Linked DNA regions of Homo sapiens. The protein of the gene in region 1 interacts with the protein of each later gene in a pairwise test. Each region holds a gene or a part of one and is shown on either strand. Other genes may lie near its edges.

The links. The genes of interacting proteins can lie anywhere in the genome.
Region 2: the proteins of CBY2 (region 1) and SYT17 interact in binary tests that used the Homo sapiens proteins (3 or more experiments, as listed by UniProt).
Region 3: the proteins of CBY2 (region 1) and ZNF572 interact in binary tests that used the Homo sapiens proteins (3 or more experiments, as listed by UniProt).

What each region holds. Positions count from the first base shown.
Region 1 is NC_000013.11:45,710,617-45,715,801, forward strand, and holds the end of CBY2 (protein chibby homolog 2), read left to right. Parts: intron 1-2,565; coding exon 2,566-3,756; 3' UTR 3,757-3,943; downstream 3,944-5,185.
Region 2 is NC_000016.10:19,177,401-19,186,845, forward strand, and holds part of SYT17 (synaptotagmin-17), read left to right. Parts: intron 1-2,990; coding exon 2,991-3,139; intron 3,140-3,347; exon of another isoform or gene 3,348-4,046; intron 4,047-6,062; exon of another isoform or gene 6,063-6,127; coding exon 6,128-6,747; intron 6,748-9,445. UniProt on the Homo sapiens protein: Plays a role in dendrite formation by melanocytes.
Region 3 is NC_000008.11:124,975,456-124,981,495, reverse strand, and holds the end of ZNF572 (zinc finger protein 572), read right to left. Parts: intron 5,891-6,040; 5' UTR 5,856-5,890; coding exon 5,777-5,855; intron 5,149-5,776; coding exon 3,638-5,148; 3' UTR 2,107-3,637; downstream 1-2,106. UniProt on the Homo sapiens protein: May be involved in transcriptional regulation.

The DNA.
Region 1 (5,185 bases):
GGACCTTAAACCTATCAGAAAATGGTCTAGGTTATCCACAGTGAGGTTCATTCTGATCACAGACAGCTACAGGAGCCAATCTGCTTTCCCAGTTGAGAAATGTGAAAACCAGGGAGGCTGAACTTTTTTAAACTAAATAAAATTCCGCTTGCAGAATGCCCTCATACCCTTGCTATCTGGAAGATTGAGCGTATCCTTACAAAGTTAATGACATGTGCTTATTGCAAAGTTAATGGCATAGAACTGCATCTTCTATTTATCTAGCTCTTTAAGTTTTAAAGAATTCTAACCAACTTTATATACCATGCAAATTGTGTTTCTCTCTCTACATACACCCACACATATATATATAATGTAGTTAGCCTGACTTGTTTTTTATTTTCTCTATCTGTACGGTTGTGAAAGTAACCTAAGACATAAGGAATTGATATCTGGAGAGCATTTTGATATACTTGGATGAAGTACTTTTGGTGTATTTGGAAGTAGCTATCATGATCTGTTTACTTAAATTCATGGCTGCAATCATCACCTCTTCTCTAGTGTGCATTCTACTTGCTCACTTCTTTTTGAATACATCTTATAATTCTTGCATTAGTGAAATCTACTCTTCTTGATAATAATACCTTATGGTTCTTTGGCACTGTTGGTTTTAAAAATATTTTTGCATTCATTATCTCATTTAATCCTCACAACAGTGTTGTGAACTAAGCAGGGCACATATTATTTCTATTTTACAGGTATATTTCATTGACTTTTCAATGTTGGAAGGTGCCTTTAAGATCATGGAGCCCGACTCCCTCTTTTTCACTCGTGAAAAGTCTGGGTCTCAAAGAGGATAAGAGAGCTGTCTGGTTTCAAAGTGCCCATCAGTGACAAAATCAGGATGAGAATTCTTGTGACCTTTCAGTCTGTAATGCTGGTGCAACCCTCACTTAAGCAAATTGCCTATTCTACTTGACTTAGATCTGTCCTAACCACCTGCAGCCAGGAACACCTGAAGGAGCTGGTTAGAAATGCAGATTCCTGGGCCACACCCCAGTCTGAGTAAATCAGACTCACAATGGGAGGCTCAGAAATCTGCATTTAAAACTCACTGGAGTTATTTTTCTGTACTGGGATGTGTGAAAGCTACCAGCTCATTGGAGTTAAGCTCTGTGGATCTGAGCCCCGTTTTATGCTGTGGTCTTGAGGTCTATGGCCACCATCATGAATTCCTCAGGGTCCTTGACTGGCTTTATCACCACATGTTGAACGCTCATTGCTCAGTGATATGTCTGGGATGGGTTTTCTTTCTTTCCAAAATTATTAGTTAGACTCTGCTTTGAGTCTAGCATTGCATTAGAAGCTGGGGTGAATGTTTAAGGGGCTGCTAGCAGAAAAGACTCAAGGGTGGCTAAGAGTGAAGGATATGCCCAGATGGGCAAGAGAGAAGGCTGGGCTGACCAACGGCACCGCCATTTTGGACACAGCAATTTGGGTGGCTGTTTGGATGATTCATGCTGCTTCTCTGCTCATGCTAAGTGTGAGTACACATCTGTGGGTGGTGGCCCTTGAGAACAGTGTTTGTTCCTCCTTTAGGGTGACAGAATGTGCCAGAGCCCATGCTTAGTGCTTTTGTACATTGCCTTTTTTAATCCTAAAAATGTCTCTATGAGGCAAGGAGTAAATGCAATTATCCCAATTTGAAAATGTGGAAATTAAAGCTCAAATAACTTGCTCAAATTCTTGTTAATTGGTAAGTAGTGAGGCAAAGACTCAAAATATTTGGTTGACTCTAAAATGAATGCCTTTGACCACCATAATATATAACTGTTTCTTATTATTCACGGATTCCATATTTGTGAATTTGCCTACTTGCTAAAATGTGTATCCACCAAATCAATACTTGTAGCACTTTTATGGTAATTCTCAGACATGCACGGAGAGGTGAAAATTTGAGTTGTGTGAAGTTGAGTCCCCAGCCAAGGAGCCTTCTTGTTTCAGCTCTCAGGCTAGAAAATAGTGTCCATTGCGCAGTCTATCTAGTGCCACTTTTTTTGTTTTGCCTTCTTGTGCATTTTGTTGGTGATTTTGCTGTTAAAAATGGCTTCTGTACCATTCCAAGTCAAGTGCTGTCTAGTATTCCCAATCACAAGAAGGCTATGCTGTGCCACATGGAGAAAACACATGTGTTAGAGAAGTTTTGTTTGGGCATGCGTGACAGTGCTGCTGACGTGAATTTGATGTTAATGAATCAACAATACGCACTAAATGAGGTTATGTATTGCTTGGTTGACAAAACTGTGACCACAGGCTCACAGGAACATAGCCCTCTATTTCCTGTAGGAGCAATGGTTCTATATTTGCTAATTCAGTATTGGAACTGACTTCATAGAACAGAACTCACTGGAATGACAAGGATAGGCCACATTTCCTTGTGAGGACCCCAAGAAGCAAAAGCGCCCACTGTGGCCAGGCCAGACAATCAGACGGGGCTTATTTGGGGATGTCCTGGCCCCTTTGTCAGCCAGCCCCAAGTGTGTCAGTCCCATCGTTAACGCTGGGCTTTCCCATTCTCTCCCGCAGAGGGGCACAGCCGAACCCTTCCCGAGGCTCCACAACTTGTACAGCACCCCTCGCTGCGCGCAGCAGGCCGCCCTGCCCCGGCTGAGCCGCAGGATGGCGAGCCAGCACTCCTATCCACTGAACCGCTTCTCCTCCGTGCCTTTAGACCCCATGGAGCGCCCCATGTCCCAGGCCGACCTGGAGCTGGACTACAACCCGCCGCGGGTGCAGCTCAGCGACGAGATGTTCGTGTTCCAGGACGGGCGCTGGGTAAATGAGAACTGCCGCCTGCAGTCTCCCTACTTCTCCCCATCCGCCTCCTTCCACCACAAGCTGCACCACAAGAGGCTGGCCAAGGAGTGCATGCTGCAGGAGGAGAACAAGTCTCTGCGGGAGGAGAACAAGGCCCTGCGCGAGGAGAACCGGATGCTCAGCAAGGAGAACAAGATCCTACAGGTCTTCTGGGAGGAGCACAAGGCCTCGCTGGGCCGAGAGGAGAGCCGGGCCCCCTCGCCACTGCTGCACAAAGACAGCGCGTCCCTGGAGGTGGTGAAGAAGGACCACGTCGCCCTGCAGGTGCCCCGTGGCAAGGAGGACAGCACCCTGCAGCTCCTCCGGGAGGAGAATCGCGCGCTGCAGCAGCTGCTGGAGCAGAAACAGGCCTACTGGGCGCAGGCAGAGGACACGGCCGCCCCTGCCGAGGAAAGCAAGCCCGCCCCCTCACCCCACGAGGAGCCCTGCAGCCCCGGGCTGCTGCAGGACCAGGGCTCCGGCCTCTCCTCCCGCTTCGAGGAGCCCAAAGGGCCTCCGGCCCGGCAGGAGGACTCCAAGGAGCTGCGCGCCCTGCGGAAGATGGTCAGCAACATGTCCGGGCCCTCCGGGGAGGAGGAGGCCAAGGTGGGCCCGGGCCTGCCCGACGGCTGCCAGCCCCTGCAGCTGCTGAGAGAGATGAGGCAGGCGCTGCAGGCCCTGCTCAAGGAGAACCGGCTCCTGCAGGAGGAGAACAGGACCCTGCAGGTGCTACGGGCAGAGCACAGGGGCTTCCAGGAGGAGAACAAGGCCCTGTGGGAGAACAACAAGCTGAAGCTGCAGCAGAAGCTGGTCATTGACACCGTGACCGAGGTCACCGCGCGCATGGAAATGCTCATCGAGGAGCTCTACGCCTTCATGCCGGCCAGGAGCCAGGACCCCAAGAAGCCTAGCAGGGTCTGAGGCCTCGGCCTTGCACCGGGACGCCGAGTTTGGGACACCGAACACTGGGCAAAAGAGAATCCCCTGCCTTCCTTTGTCGTCCTCGCCTTCCCCAGCCAGTTCGTACCTATTGAAAAGCAGCGTTAGCAGCCTTCCTAAACTCAGAGTTTTAATAAAGGTGTGAGGAGGCTGGGGCCAGTTGACACCAGCATGCTGCCTTTTTCTTTCTTTCTTTCTTTCTTTCTTTTAATAAAAGATAGACAATATTTTAGAGCAGTTTTGGGTTCACAGCTAAACTGAGCAGAAAGTACAGGGAGTTCCCATAGACTCCCGTCCCACAAATGCATAATCTCCCGCATTATCACCATCCCTCCAGAGAGGTACACTAGTGACAGTCTTTGAACCTACATTGACACATAATTATTCCAAAGTCCGTAAGTTTGTATTAGGGTTTGCTGCTGGTGTTGTACATTCTGTGGGTTTGATCAAATGCATAGTGACATGTAGCCACCATTGTAGTACCATATAGAGTATTATAGAGTATATGTAGTACCATATAGAGTATTTTCATTGCGCTAAAAATCCTCTGTGCTCTGCCTGTTCATCCCTCCCTCCCCCTCCAGCCTCTGGCCACCACTGATCTTTTTTACAGTCTTCATAGTTTTGCTTTTTTCAGAATGTCATATAGTTGGAATCGCCAAGTGTGGAGCCTTTTCAGGTTGGCTTCTTTCACTTGGATATGCATTTAAGTTTCCTCCATGTCTTTTCATAGATTCAGAGACTGCTCATTTCTTTTTAGCACTGAATAAAATTCCATTGTCTGGATAGATCACAGTTTATCCTTTCATCTACTAAAGAACATCTTGGTTGCTCTCAAGACAATTATGAATCTGGCTTCTTCTCTCTTTTCCCCTGGTCTCTTCTTTACCTCTGCCTTCATTATTGTCTCTGTTTTTCTCCTTCAGTTCTTCCTTTTTTTCCTTAGTTTTTTCTTCCTCCTCTTCTCTTTCTCCTATCCTTCTTGCTCCCTCATCATCTCCAATTTCTGAGGCTATGGGGGTGGGGGTAGGTCTATGGGGGAAGAGATCACCCTAAGCCAGGGCTTTTCGATTGTGCCTTTATTATTCGGGGCTGGATAAGTCTGTGCTGGGGTCTGTCCTGTGCATTGCACAATGTTTACCAGCATCCCTGGCCTCTACCCACTCAATGCCAGTAACAGCCACCTGGCTCCCAGCTGTGACAACCAAGTATGTCTCCAGACATTGCTGAATGTCCCCTGGGGGACAAATTTCAACACTACTATAGGTTTCTCCAAGTACCATTGATTGAAACACAAGTCCTAGAAATACACTGAGAAAAATAAAGGTTTGCATGAGGAAATGCTGCTAGAATCCCCTCGGGCAGATTCATAATCATACTCTGACTTAAAGGTCCTAACAAGTCCTACAGT
Region 2 (9,445 bases), on another chromosome or scaffold:
CACTCAGCATAATGCAAAACGGTAAGAGAAATCTGTAAAGGGAAGATGGCTAAATCATTCAGAAAGTAAATTTACAGCTTTGTGTTTTCCCCAGATTTATTTACCAAGTGGGCAGCTGCATGTTATCAAACAGACAGGAAGTAGAAATGTCAAGTGTATGGGCTTTGCAGTGCTGTTCCTACTGCGACATTTGAGCCAAGAACCATGGGACTTGCCTCTGTGGACTGGCATGTGGCAGATGAGCTGGCCCTTTGTGTGTGCTCTGCGTGTGATCTTGGGGATACATTAATTGTCACATATGCTCATGTCCTGTGGGCCCCCAACTTTTCTTGGCTGGGCTGGGCTGGTGAAGATTAGGAAAACTGCACAATCTGACTGGTGCTTTTTGAAGCAATGCCAGAAAGACCCTCATTGAAGAGTGAATTAAAGTCAAGTTGGTTGATTGTTTGTCGAACAAGCACATATTGAATGCCTACAATGTGCAGAGCTCTTACAGCCCTCTCAGAGATGCCCCACTTGGCGATTGGGAGTGTGTGCCATTTAGAGTTTAGCATTACTGGCTTAGCTGGGGTTCTGCCTTTTAACAGTGGTGCAAATTAGTTATTCATCCTTCTCCCAACCTGTATTAGTTTGTTTTCTGTTGTGATAAAGGGATACCCAAGACTGGGTAAGGTTCAAGTGATTCTCCTTTTTTTTTTTTTGAGACGGAGTCTAGCTCTGTCGCCCAGGCTGGAGTGCAGTGGTGCAATCTCGCTCACTGCAAGCTCTGCCTCCCGGGTTCATGCCATTCTCTTGCCTCAGCCTCCCGAGTAGCTGGGACTACAGGCGTCCGCCACCACGCCCGGCTAATTTTTTGTATTTTTTTTAGTAGAGATGGGGTTTCACCGTGTTAGCTAGGATGGTCTCGATGTCCTGACCTCGTGATCCACCCGCCTCAGCCTCCCAAAATGCTGGGATTACAGACGTGAGCCACCGTGCCCGCCCAGTTTCAAGTGATTCTCATGCCTCAGCCTCCCAAGTAGCTGGGACTGCAAGTGCATGCCACCACGTCAGGTTAATTTTTGTACTTTTAATAGAGATGGGGTTTCGCCATGTCGGCCGGGTTGGTCTCGAACCCCTGACCTCAAGTGATCCACCCACCTCAGCCTCCCAAAGTCCTGGGATTACAGGCATGAGCCACCATGCCTAGCTCCTGATAACACTTTTGAAGAACATCAGATCAGTCTCATCTCATGCACAGGATGCGTCTGAAGACCTCACAGCATTCAAAACTTGCATTTTTCAAGACGAGTTTTCCCATAGGCTTTAATGTCAAGTTGGGGGGTATGCAGCCTCGGAAGGCATAAATCTACAGCCATTATGGCTTAGGGGCATGTTATTAGCAGCATCAGTCTCAAAACGACGTCACCAGCTGTTTTTCTACCTCCTTTCCCATCCCTCCAGCATCCTTACCTAGCTTTATGAGTATTGGGGGGGATCTTAAAGCCACCCCAGTTGTAATAATATCAACTAAGCTGGGCATGGAGGCATGCATCTATAGTCCCAGCTACTCAAGAGGCTGAGGGCGGGAGGATCACTTTGAGCCCAGGAGTTCGAGTCCAGCCTGGGCAACATAGTGAGACCCTGTTTCTTAAAAAAAAAAACAATGAATTGATCGATCAATCAATAAAAAATGTTTCAAGATGTATTGAGCAGCTGTTTACTACGCAACCAAGCACTGTTCTAAGCATTTTATTTATTTTTGAGACAGGGTCTCTTGCTGTGTCACCCAGGCTGGAGTACAGTGGCACAATCATAGCCCACTGCAGCCTCAAACTCCTGGGCTCAAGCAGTCCTCCCGCCTTAGCCTCCCAAGTAACTATGACTACAAACACAGACCACCATGCCCAGCTAATTTAAAAAATTTTTTTGTAGAAACAGAGTTCTGCCATGTTGCCCAGGCTGATCTCAAACTTTCGAGCTCAAGTGATCCTCCTGCCTTAGCTTCCCAAAGTTTACATTCTTCACAAAGTTTACAGCTGTGGGCCACCATGCCCAGCCAACTTTCAGTAGAGATGGGTCCTGCTGTGTTGCCCAGGCTGGTCTCAAACTCCTGGCCTCAAGGGATCCTCCTGCCTTGGCCTCCCAAAATGCTGGGATTATATGTGTGAGCCACCATGCTCGGCCTCTACGCATTTTATATGTGTTAACTCATTCAGTGTTTACAACCACCGTATAATGTGGGTACTGTCAATATTTCCACTTTACAGATGGGGAAATGGAGGTACGGGAGGGGAAAGGGACTTGCCCCAGCACCCAGCCAGGGTTCAGCCCCAGCGGTTCTCTCAATGACTACCCTGTATCGTCTTCCTTCTCCATCCACCCCTACATCCTCCTTCCCAATTTCTCAGCAGTTCTTTATTGGGAGCACATTGAGTCACGGCTGCTGCTAATTTATAGCTATTTCTTTACATCAAACTTCTGTTCAGAAATTGTTGATTTTCAGGGCCATTTCTGCCGCGCAAAGAACCCTTGAGTGACATTGTTATAGGATATTTTTAAAAGATCTTAAATTATAGACACAGTGACTGTTGAAATACCAGGACACTTGTAACCAAAAGCAGAAGTTCGGATGCCTATAAAACAACCAGACGGTTCACTCCAGGCTGGAGATTGACAGGTCTCGGGCTTCACTGAGCCAAAGTGGCGCCCCCACGTGGCGACAGCTTAACTTTACACAGCTCTCCACCCAACCCCAGCTTTGAAATTATGCAAGTTCTTGACAGATTGTTCTAAATTGGGGAATATTTCTTCATATCATTTCACATTTTGTGCAAAAAGCAAGACGTTGTTGAGAGTTTAAGGACACCACACTGTCAAATTTGCATTATTCCATGTTGCATAAAATGAGTCTGAGAGCGGTTTCATCGTGGGTCTTAACCCCCAAGGGACAGAGATGCCAGTCCCCGGGGATTCCTGGACAGCTACTGAGACCTCTTCCCTTCCTATAGGATGGCCAGCCGGAGCAGTGACAAGGATGGTGACTCTGTCCACACGGCCAGCGAAGTCCCGCTGACCCCACGGACCAATTCCCCGGATGGAAGACGCTCGTCCTCAGACACATCCAAGTCTACATACAGCCTGACGCGGAGGATTTCGAGTAAGTATCTCTGCTTTACCTTTCTGGGGGCCCTGGCTGGCTTTCCCAGACACTCTCCCACGGAGAGTCATGAAGGGCAGTGTTATTGCTGGGGGAGGGCGGCAGAGTGGGATGACAGTCCAGGAGACAGGGCGAGAGAGAGATAATGACGGTGTGACAGAGGAGGGCATCACACCTGATTGCTGCTGAGTTTAATCAAAAGCAATCATTTTGATTGATTTTTGCTTTATTAATTTTAAGTTTGATTGAATTGGCTGAATTGATTAACATTGTCAGTGTATATCATTTCAGATTCTGAAAGATGAGTGTGGCTATATTATATAGCAGGGTTTGTCAATTCTGGTGACTTTGGGAGCTAGGCGGGTTGCATCAGTGGCCAAGTGCAGAGGTTGCATAGAGATAAACATTGCCTGAGTGCAGTGACAAATGGCAGCTGCCGCTCTGTCTGGAGAGTTACTAGGGCAGGGTGGGGACTTCGGTCAATTGAAAAGCAAATGCCCCATTGAAAGGGGGCCAGGGTGTCTGCTACTCAGCTCTGGCCAATGGTAGCTGTATGGGATTGGGGGCTCCGTATTGTCTGATCTTTGTAAAGAGATATTGGCAATCTGGGTTTTTTTATGTGAAACATTCTTACTTTCAAGCCTAAACAAAATGTATGTGTGGCCATCAAATTTGACCACCCAATTTGTCCACTCTGTTGTGTGGCGTATGTGTTTGACCAAACAGCATGATTTGGGTGAGGAGGAAAAAGGAGGACAAACACCCAGAGGCTCCCAACCTCCTTCTGCTCCACAAAAGTATCTCTGCTCTGTGTGAACCGATGTCTGAAATTCACCAGACAGAGGGAAAAGCTTCAAATGCATGAAACAAATCCATTCAGGTGGAGATCATTGGTGTCCAACCTTTCCTGGGGATAGAGGGAAAAGAAAAAAGTAGAAAAAAAAAGAGTTCAAGGGCATGAAATAGTGAAACAGAGGGAGCACTGGATTTCTTTAGGCCTCAGTCTTCCCATTTGTAAAATGAGAGGGCTGGTCTAGAGCTGCGCTGTCTGGTATAACAATCACTAGACACACGTAGCTGTTGAGCACGTAAATGGTGTGAGACTGAATCTTACTGATGTTCTGTAAGTGCAAAATACATACTGGACTTTCAGGACAGTGAGGAAAAAAAAAAAAAAAGTCTGGGCGCGGTGGCTCATGCCTGTAATCCCAGCACTTTGGGAGGCCGAGGCGGGAGGATCACCTGAGGTCAGGACTTCGAGACCAGCCTGGCTAACATGGTGAAACCCCATCTCTACTAAAAATACAAAATTAGACGGGCATGGTAGCGCATGCCTGTAATCCCAGCTACCTGGGAGGCTGAGGCAGGAGAATCGGTTGAACCCGGGAGGTGGAGGTTGCAGTGAGCCGAGATTGCACCACTACACTCCAGCTCAGGCAACAAAAATGAAACTCTGTCTCAAAAAAAAAAAAAAAAAGAGAGAGAGGATTTAAAGTATCTCACTAAAATATTTTTATATTGGTTCCATGTTGAAATGAGTATACATTGGATATAGTGGGTTAAATAAAATAAAATATTAAAATTAATTTTGCAGGCTGGGCGCGGTGGCTCACGCCTGTAATCCCAGCACTTTGGGAGGCCGAGGCAGGCAGATAGCTTGAGGCCAGGAGTTCAAGACCATCCTGGCCAACATGATGAAATTCCATCTCTATTAAAAATGCAAAAATGGGCCAGGTGTGGTGGTATACAACTGTAGTCCCAGCTACTTGAGAGGCTGAGCCATGAGATTCACTTGCACCTGGAAGGTGGAGGTTGCAGTGAGCCGAGATCCGCCACTGCACTCCAGCCTGGACGATAGAGCAAGACTCTGTCTCAAAATAAATAAATAAAATTAAATGAATTTTGCCCTTTTATTTGCATATTTTAAAAGTCGTGGCTGCCAGAACATTTTAAGTTACATGTGTGGCTTGCATTTCTGGCTTGCGTTATCTTTCTATGGACAGTGTGGGCCTAGGTAATTTCTAAGTCTCATGCCCAGCTCTGAACACAGGTTATCTCCATTTAGCATACATCTATCAGAGTACCTCCCATGCCTCTGGCAAATGTCTCATAAAGACAACTGTTTGGGCAATTAGCAAGAATGCCATGAGCTCATTGCTAGAAGAGAGGGATGTGCAAAGGTTGGAATAATGAACTTGGGATCAATGCATTCTGCTGGTTCATGGAAGGGAGAGAGGCGGCCCGTAAGCGGTGAGGTTTGAATATGAACCTTGAAGAAGTACAGTCGTTCCCATTTATTGGTCTGTGCCTACGGGCACATTCTGTGCCATGCTCTTTTCATGCCCTGGCTCAGTGAATCTTCACCACATTCTTTGAGGTAGGTGCCGTTATTGACTCTATTTTACTGATGGGAAAACAGAGTCCCAGAGAGTCAAAAGAATATGCCCGGAGTCACATGGCTCACTGGTAATGAGTACACGAGTAGTGAGTAAGTGGCTGAGATGGAATTCCACCCAGGCACTCTGGTCCCAGAGCTCACTCTCTTAAAGTGGAGACATCGTAGGATAATGGTTAGAGCCAGACTCTGGGGTCAGCTAGACCAGCCTGACCCCTGGCTCCTACACTTGCAAGTGTGTGACCTTCAGAAAGTTACTTAAAGCTTCTGTTTCCTCGTCTATAAAGTGGGGATAATAGTAATTATCTAATAATTCAAGGGGATGTGAAGATTGTGATTGCACATATGCGATGATGTAGTGTACACAGTCCATTAGAGCAGTGCCTGGCACTTAGCTGCTGTGATGATGGCAAGGTGTCAATAGTGCCACCAAACTATCTGTCACAGAATCAGTGAGTATTTCAGAGTGTGGAGAAAGATGGCAAAGGTCATTCTGAAGCAGAGTAAACAATGCAAGAATCTGCTTACCTGCAAAGTGGCCCAGGTCTGCCCCGTATGTGGCTGTCTTCATTGTTATTTCTGGTGGCTCTCAGGTCTTGAGTCAAGACGTCCCAGCTCTCCACTCATCGATATTAAACCCATCGAGTTTGGCGTTCTCAGCGCCAAGAAGGAGCCCATCCAACCTTCGGTGCTCAGACGGACCTATAACCCCGACGACTATTTCAGGAAGTTCGAACCCCACCTGTACTCCCTCGACTCCAACAGCGACGATGTGGACTCTCTGACAGACGAGGAGATCCTGTCCAAGTACCAGCTGGGCATGCTGCACTTCAGCACTCAGTACGACCTGCTGCACAACCACCTCACCGTGCGCGTGATCGAGGCCAGGGACCTGCCACCTCCCATCTCCCACGATGGCTCGCGCCAGGACATGGCGCACTCCAACCCCTACGTCAAGATCTGTCTCCTGCCAGACCAGAAGAACTCAAAGCAGACCGGGGTCAAACGCAAGACCCAGAAGCCCGTGTTTGAGGAGCGCTACACCTTCGAGATCCCCTTCCTGGAGGCCCAGAGGAGGACCCTGCTCCTGACCGTGGTGGATTTTGATAAGTTCTCCCGCCACTGTGTCATTGGGAAAGTTTCTGTGCCTTTGTGTGAAGTTGACCTGGTCAAGGGCGGGCACTGGTGGAAGGCGCTGATTCCCAGTTCTCAGGTAAGGGATGGGTTTGTGGTGTTTCCTCCTGGGAGCTTTTTTAAAAAGTGATTATTTTTATTTTATTTTACTGTTTAAAAGGCTTTTTTGGATTTTTAAAACTTTTTATTTTGAAATAATTTTTGACTCACAAGAGGTTGCAAAAATAGCAGAGAGTTCCTGTGTCCTCTTGATCCAGCATGATAGCATCTTACGCAACCAGGAAATAGATGTTGGTAACTAACCTAGAGCTTACTCAGATTTCAGTAGTTTTTTTTTTTTTTTGAGACGCTCTGTCACCCAGGCTGGAGCGCCGTGGCGTGATCTTGGCTCACTGCAAACTCCACCTCCCAGGTTCACGCCATTCTCCTGCCTCAGCCTCCTGAGTAGCTGGGACTATAGGCGCCCGCCACCACGCCCTGCTAATTTTTTTGTATTTTTTTTTTTTTTAGTAGAGATGAGGTTTTCCGTGTTATCCAGGATGGTCTCGATCTCCTGACCTCAAGATTTCACTACTTTTTACATGCATCACTCATGTGTGTGTCTTTCTGTGAAAATTTATCACATGTATAGATTCCTGTAACCACCACCACTCTGGAAGCCTTTTTTAAATCATCGATGCTGAGTTATTTAATAAGGAGAATGATTGCACAGGGTATAAAGCTATCAATCATTTTGACTTTCAGAAATTGATTTTTTTGGGGAAAAAGTGAAGGCTGGAAAACAGGATGATGCATGGATGTTTTTCAGGCCAACTGTTAGATTGGCTTCCTTCCCCCTGTCCAGCCCAGGGAAATGTGGTTGGCTGCTCGGGAAGCCACCCACGGACCAGGCTGTGTCTCCAGTCGGCTGTTGTGCATTCCTGCATATTAGAGGGTAACTGTCTACCCATTGTAGGTAGAAGGATGTGGGGAGCCCAAGGAAAGGAAAAGACCCAGCCACTCCTTCCTCCTTCCCTCCCTTCCCGCTTCTCTCTTCACTCCCTCCCTCCCTTCCTTCCCTGCTACCCTCTTCCCTCCCTTTCTCCCTCCTTCCCCTCCTTCCTCCCTCCCCTCCTCCCCTCTTCCCTTCCTTCTCTCCCTGTCCTGTGGGATGGCTGTTGTAGGAACAGGGACGGGAGATGGAGAAACAGGGGAGGGGGCTTTGGCCACCATGAGGTCAATAAGAGCTGCCTTCCAGGCCAGGCGCAGTGGCTTACGCCTGTAATCCCAGCACTTTGGGAGGCTGAGGCAGGAGAATCACTTGAGTCTAGGCGTTCAAGACCAGCCTGGGCAACACAGTGAGACCCCGTCTCTACAAAAAACAATTTAAAAATTAGCTAGGCATGGTAGTGCACATCTGTAATTCTAGCTACTTGGGAGGCTGAGGCAGGAGGATCTCTTGAGCCCAGAGTTTGAGGCTGCAGTGAGCTATGATCGAGCCACTGCACTCACTCCAGCTCACTCCAGCCTGGTTGACAGAGTGAGACCCTGTCTCTTTAAAAAAAAAAAAAAGTTGCCTTTCCATGGGGAGCCATTTGGTGACGTGCAGAGAAAATGGCCTTGGGTCCAAGCTGCAACCTTCCTCCCAGTGCCTAGCTGTTGCTGGGCCCCTGTGCTCCCTCACCTCACTTCAGGTGAAGTGGAGGTAGTAACACCACCTCGCAGCGAGGGCCTGGCGGGTGGCGAGCACTCCACAGTGGCAGGCCCAGTTGTCAGGAGACGACGTCTTCTATTGTGAACCCATTCAGAGTGAGCCTGTAATGTGTCGCCTTCCAGTGCACTAAGCGGTAATCACACCTGGTGAATATCTAATTGGGCAGACAAGAGGCGGGGAGTGTTCCCGTTCACTCCTGATGCTGAGCCTTCTTGCGGTAGAGGAGCTGGCGTCTCCTCAGCTGAGTTAATCTCGGGGCTGCCATCTCCTTTCCATTTGAAGAGGGACAGCCGGGCCTGTTTCAGGTCACTGCGGGAGCAGGTTTCTCCCAGACAAGGGCTGGCTCCTCACCCTTGATAGAGCTGCAGGCCGTGCCTTAGTTTCATGGGGACCTTTCAGTGCCTCTATGAATTAAAAGTATTCATGTGTATAGGGCTGAGTGCAATGGCTCACACCTGTAATCCCAGCACTTTGGGAGGTTGAGGTGGGAGGATGGCTTGAGCCCAACAGTTCGAGACCAGCCTGGGCAACATAGTGACACCCTATTTCTACAAAACATTAAAAAAAAAAAAATTAGCCAGGCATGGTGGCATGTGCCTGTAGTCCCAGCTACTCGGGAGGCTGAGGCAGGAGGATTGCTCGAGCCCGGGAGTTTGAGGCTGCAGTGAGCTATGATTGCGCCGATGCACTCCAGCCTGGTCAATAGAGTGAGGCCTTGTCTCTAAAAAAATAAAATAACAAAAGTGTGTATAAAGTTGAAATATTGCAGGCAGGTCAACTGCTCTAATTGCTCATCTGATTTATACTCTGGTCCGTCACACTCGGGCTTCCAGCCTTGCTGGTGCTATTATCAGCCAAGTAGTGGCTGTTAATGCCTTTAATTGTGGGTTTGACTCAAGTCCTGGCTGTAAATGCCTTCTGTCTCTCATTCCTGATGATGATGAGTGTTTTCTTAGTACTGTTCAAAATAGTTTTTGGAAGCGTCATCTGGACCCTTAAGATATTTGTTTTCCTTCTCTTCTCCCCTCTTTATTATTCTTTGTTTTTTCTTCTCTGATCTGCTCATTTCTTCATTCTGTTTCTC
Region 3 (6,040 bases), on another chromosome or scaffold:
AACTTCTACAGCACTAAGGAGAAGGCCCATTTGGTAGACCCCACTTGGATGACTTGGGATGATGGGATTAAGACTTTACCTTGATTACAATAGAGACTTATGCTTACATGCCCTCTGGTAGGCTGTACAGCAGTTAGGGAGTGAGTTCCCTCCTATAGTTGTGAGTATATGCATTGACATGGCTCTCCCTATGCTATGGTATGGAAAATATATATGAGCTCCTTCTTTGAGTAGGAAAAATATACATTATAGGTCTCTTCTATTTAATTAAAAAGAAACTATGAAATAAATCACTCATAAATAAAGAATGCTTTCTTTATTCACATGCTGAGTCCTTTATGCTAGCAAGAAAAATAGAGAATATAGAATTTCTTTCTCATGGAGCTAAACAAAGAGCCTACTTGCTGATTAATGAAACTGAGATAAAAGTATCACATATTACGTTTGACTATGTTATCTTCTCCATCATAAGGTACAAATCTCTTGTTTTCCTCATTTTCAATCCAAAGAGACAAGGATTTTTGCCAAATTTTTCTACTAATGGAGCCCATCTTAACCCATCTAAGATATGAACATCTTTATTCTGGTAGACATCAAGGTTTGTGAAATAGGTTTTATATATTGCCAGCCATCATAGTACATTGTATAGGTGATGGTGACAGGACATAAATTGTACCTGTTATTAATCTCTTCAGATGCAAATTAACTTCAATTGAACTTGCGACTTTGTTCTTTCCCAAGTTAAACCAAATCCTTTGTTTCATGAATAAAAAGAAAATTTAGTAAAATTTCCTGTTTCTTTGTTATAGCTGCTTACAAAGTGAATAAAAGTGTTTTAGACAGTCTGCAAACAATATAGTCCTGTGCTTTTCCAATATTTTATCCCTTAAAATTCCTGAAGTTGATCATAAAGAATCTACAAGTAAGATAAGTTTGGGGCTGTACTACTACTTCCTATTTCTAAAACATGTGGATAACATTTTTTTTCAGTTTGTTTCAATTAATAATAATAGCAGCAACTAAGTATCATTTATTGATACCCTGCTATGTTTAAGCACTGTGCTATATGCTTTGCAAACATTCATTTAATGTTTATGGTAACCCTGTAAGGTAGGCATTATTTCTGCTTTACAGATGAGGGAACTGAGGCTCAGAGTGGTTACCTACCACAGAGCATTGATTTTGTATCACCCCAACCACTGCTGCCTTGTAACTGAATTTCAGCCTCAACAGCAAACTCCTAAGTTTATCAGCCAACTCCTAAGCTGATAACTCCTTAGTTATCAAGCATTAATCAAACTGTTACCATAAAAACTTGTCCTGAAATATTACAATTTAAGAAAATTTGGGCAATACTAGATAACATACAAAGACAGAAAAATACTCAGGTGAGGTCACACAAAAGCCAATAATGGGCCAGGTGTGGTGGCTCACACCTGTAATCTCAGCAGCTTGGGAGGCTGAGGGAGGAGAACTGCTTGAAGCCAGGAGTTCAAGACCAGCCTGGGCAACATAGCAAGACCCTGTCTCTATAAAAATTTTAAAATTAGCTGGCTGCAGTGGCATGTGCTTGTAGTCCTAGCTACTCAGGAGGCGGAGATGGGAAGATCCCTTGAGCCCAGGGGTCTGAGGGTGCAGTCAGCTATGATGGTGCTAGTGCACTACAGTCTGGGTGACAGTGTGAGACCTTATCTCTTAAACAATTAATAAGGGCCGGGCGCAGTGGCTCACGCCTGTAATCCCAACACTTTGGGAGGCCAAGGCAGCTGGATCATGAGGTCAGGAGATCGAGACCATCCTGGCTAACACGGTGAAACCCCATCTCTACTAAAAACACAAAAAATTAGCTAGGCGTGGTGGCAGGCACCTGTAGTCCCAGCTACTCGGGAGGCTGAGGCAGGAGAATGGCATGAACCCGGGAGGCAGAGCTTGCAGTGAGCCAAGATCGCACTACTGCACTCCAGCCTGGGCGACAGAGTGAGACTCCGTCTCAAAAAAAAAAATAATAATAATGAATAAGAAAAAAATAAAAATAAAAAGCCAATAATGCCTAATGTTTTCCCCCTTTTTTGAAAGCAGAAAATTTCCCCCAAATTCTCCAATACCTTTATTTGTTAGTTTTTGCTTTATTTTTGTAATCAAATAACAATACAAAAACACACAAATACCCCGCCAGCATCAGGTGCACCACAATCATGAAAGATAAAATAACCCCCATGCAATTAAATGACCATCAGCTACAGAACTTTGCAGCAGCTACAACTGACCCATTCTGGCTTCACATTCCTAATATGCATCTCTGCATATTATTCATAAAATACATTCTGAATCCAAAAATTAGATGAAATCATGGGCAACTCAGGAGTCCTAATCTTCCTACTCATCTACCTTTTGCACTAGCAGGAAAAAAATGGGAGGAAGGGAATAGGATATATCTAATAATTTCCAAAGCATCATTCCCATAGGAATGAGTAGGGAAGATGGGACCTCAGTTATCAGATCCATATACCAATTATGTCAAGAGGCAAAAGAAAACTGTCAGTACCAAAGCTAAGAAGTCTCAGTACTCCTTAATGACAAACTGTCCTTGGACACTGGCTCAGATTTAGTGAGTTAATTATTAGAAAAAGAACCCAGTTCTTGAGCTGACCAAGAATTACATAATGGGATAATTTAGGGAAAAGGCTCTTCATTGCAAATTTTAAGATAGAATTCAGGAATCCTGCCTTCTATTCTGGCTTTGGTCAAGACAGTGAGGTCATATCACTAGATAACTCAGTTGGCAGCACATGAATTAGAACACACAATCATTAAAATATCCAATGTCTAAACCCAGTGTCTTCAATACTCTATCCCAATTCTACTCTATATTACAATTCTTTTTGGAGAGCAAACCCTCCAGAACACACTTCTACAGTCTTTATAGGAAATATTTATGGGTCTGTCAAGAATGATGATCTTGAATGAAAGAACCTTCTATAATATCCAATACAGTAGCCGCTGGTCACACAGAGCTACTGAGCACTTAGAAAGTGGCTAGTGTGACTGAGGAACTGGATTTAAAATTTCAATTAATCTTAATACAAATAGCTACATACGGCTAGAGGCTATGGTACTGGACAGTATAGTTCTAGATGGTACGACAGTTAATTTTTAGTGACTAAAAATGCATTTGAAAAAAAAAAATCTTAAGCCCCCAACAAAATAGCCAGGAAATCACATTATTTGCTCAAAAATACCCTTTCTTTGGGTAAACCCCTGAGGCCAGTAATGATGTATCTCTACCCAATAAGGGAAGAGAAAATAAAGTAATTCAATAGCAATTCTAGCTTCGGTTCTCATGGTTCCTTTGCTTACTCTCAGGATTACTCTGTATGTGTTCTTTTGAAGCTATTACTATCTTACCTTAAATTTTTAAAAGTCCTCCTTTCTTCATCCTTGGTGGATGAATCTCTCACTGGACAGATCCAATAACCTGGTGATTGGGGTCTTCCCATCCTTTAAACTGGGAGGTTGACTTTTTCCAAATGTTTTGACAAACACATCAAAGAAACTTTATAGCACAACAATCACAGAATACCTAAATTGTCATGGTCCAACAAGGAAGAAAAAACCATCACCAACCAGGCTTTGGGACTCAGGAAGATGAATTTGAGACGGAAAATGAAGAGATGAAGGGCATTTCCCCTGAACAGTTTTTCCAAGTCCATTCATGAGGAAAATCCCCAACGTCGGGAGACTCAAAAGGCTTTTCTACGTGAATTTTCCGATGCTGACTGAGGTAGGCACTTCTGCTGAAGCATTTCTCACAGCTGGTACATTTGTAAGGTTTTTCCCCTATGTGGGTCCTCCGGTGCCTGATAAGGTTAAAGCTCTGACTGAAGCTTTCACCACAATCAGGACATTTATAAGGTTTCTCTCCTGTATGTGTCCTTTGGTGAATCACCAGGGTGGAACTCTGACTGAAAGTTTTCCAGCACTCAGAACATCTGTAAGGTTTTTCTCCTGTATGTGTTCTCTGATGTCTAATGAGATGGGAGCTAAGGCCAAAACTCTTCCCACATTCACAACATCTATATGGTTTCTCTCCTAACTGGATTCTGCATTCTTCTATCACATTGCAGTTCTGACCCAAACTTTCCTCATATTCAGAACTTTCATAGGATTTCTCTCCTGTGTGCATTTTCTGGTGTGTAATAAGGTTTGAACTACGACTAAAATTCTTCCCACATTCTGGACATTGATAAGGCTTTTCTCCTGTATGTATTCTCTGATGTTTTATTAGAGTAGAATTACAACCAAAGCTTTTTTCACACTCAAGACATTTGTAGGGCTTCTCACCTGTGTGTGTCCGCTGGTGGCGAATGAGGCTGGAACTCTGACTAAAACTCTTCCCACAATCAGGGCACTTATAAGGTTTTTCTCCAGTGTGAGTCCTCTGATGTTCTATTAGGACATAGCTGTGACTGAAGCCTTTTCCGCAGACAGAACATTCATATGGTTTTTCACCTGTATGTGATCTGTGATGCTGAATAAGGTGAGAGCTGCTGCTGAATCTCTTCCCACACTCGGGACATTTGTAGGGTTTCTCTCCCGTGTGAGTTCTCTCATGGATAATAAGATGGGAGGTATTGCTGAAGCTTTTCCCACATTCACCACACTGGTAGGGCTTCTCTCCTGTGTGCATTCTTAGATGCTGAATCAGGTGAGAACTGTTACAAAAACATTTTGCACACTCAGAGCATTTATAAGGCTTTTCTCCTGAGTGGGTCCTCTGGTGAGTACGCAAATGAGAACTATTACTGAAGCTTTTCCAACATTCGGAACATTTATAGGGTCTGTCTACAAAGGATGAATTCTGCTGGACACAGGCATTGGTATGTTCTCCTGAGTCCCATTCCTGGTGATTGGGTTTTTCCTCCTCTTTAGCTATAAAATTTCCCCAATTCTCTGACTTGCCATCACTCTCATAGGAATCATGACACCAAATCTCATCTTGAACCCATGTCAGTGGCATTTCTTTTGCATCCTCATGCTTATAATGTTGTGGTCTATGTCTTTTAGACCATTCTGAAGGTTTCTCTTTAAGTTTATCTGCCTTAGAATTATTGTGGTGAACAGTTTCCAAATTATTCATACTTGTATCTCCTGCAAGAATAAACAAATATTCTAACCATATTCCAAATCTCTGCCAGAGAAGTAAATTCTAAATTGCAGTGGAAGAGAGGAAATAACACTGTAAAACCTCATAAATAATTTCATATAAAAAAGTTTTTAAAGACAGTTTTACTTCTTTTCCTCTGTTTACCAGAAGCAGGTGGATTTTTTTTTGTACCTAGCAACAACAATAATGAATTATTTGAATCATTATTGGCAAAGGGAACATCAATCTAAAAATAAATGCATTAGGTTTTGTTCTAGAAGACTTAAGAGAAAAAACAGGATTGATGTGAATAGAAGTTAAATTGAACAGGATACCATCTCAGGTAAAAACTAGACAATAGCTTTGCTAAAATCTGAGCAAATGCTATAGAAATAACAATAGCCACTATTTATTAAGAACAGTAGCTTTGGATACGGTATCTCACTAATTCTAAAATATATGTGAAATAGATATTATTCATTTTCTTAAAGATGAGAACAATGAGGCTGAAATAATTAACACAGCTTATAAGTGACAGAACAAGGAATTAAATTAAGGTTTGTCTCATTCTAGTGTCCTGTTCTTTCTACATCAAATTTCCTAAGGATTCAGATCATCGTCTTGATCCCTCACCTGTGAAAGGGCTTTTCAAACTCTCCCTCTCCATAAAGCTGTTAGAATCTGAGACCAACAGTTTTTTTTCTTGCTCCATCACAATGATCACAGCCAAGTTAGAGATCAGAAACCCTGTGGAAGGAAATAAATTATGTTTGGAGGTATTTGTTAAAGCTTATTCTTCCTCCTTCCTTCCCAACCATTCCAACACAACAATAGGAGGCATAGAATGTTCCATGAACCATACCGAAAATAAGAAACACAACTTTTAGCAGCCCTTTT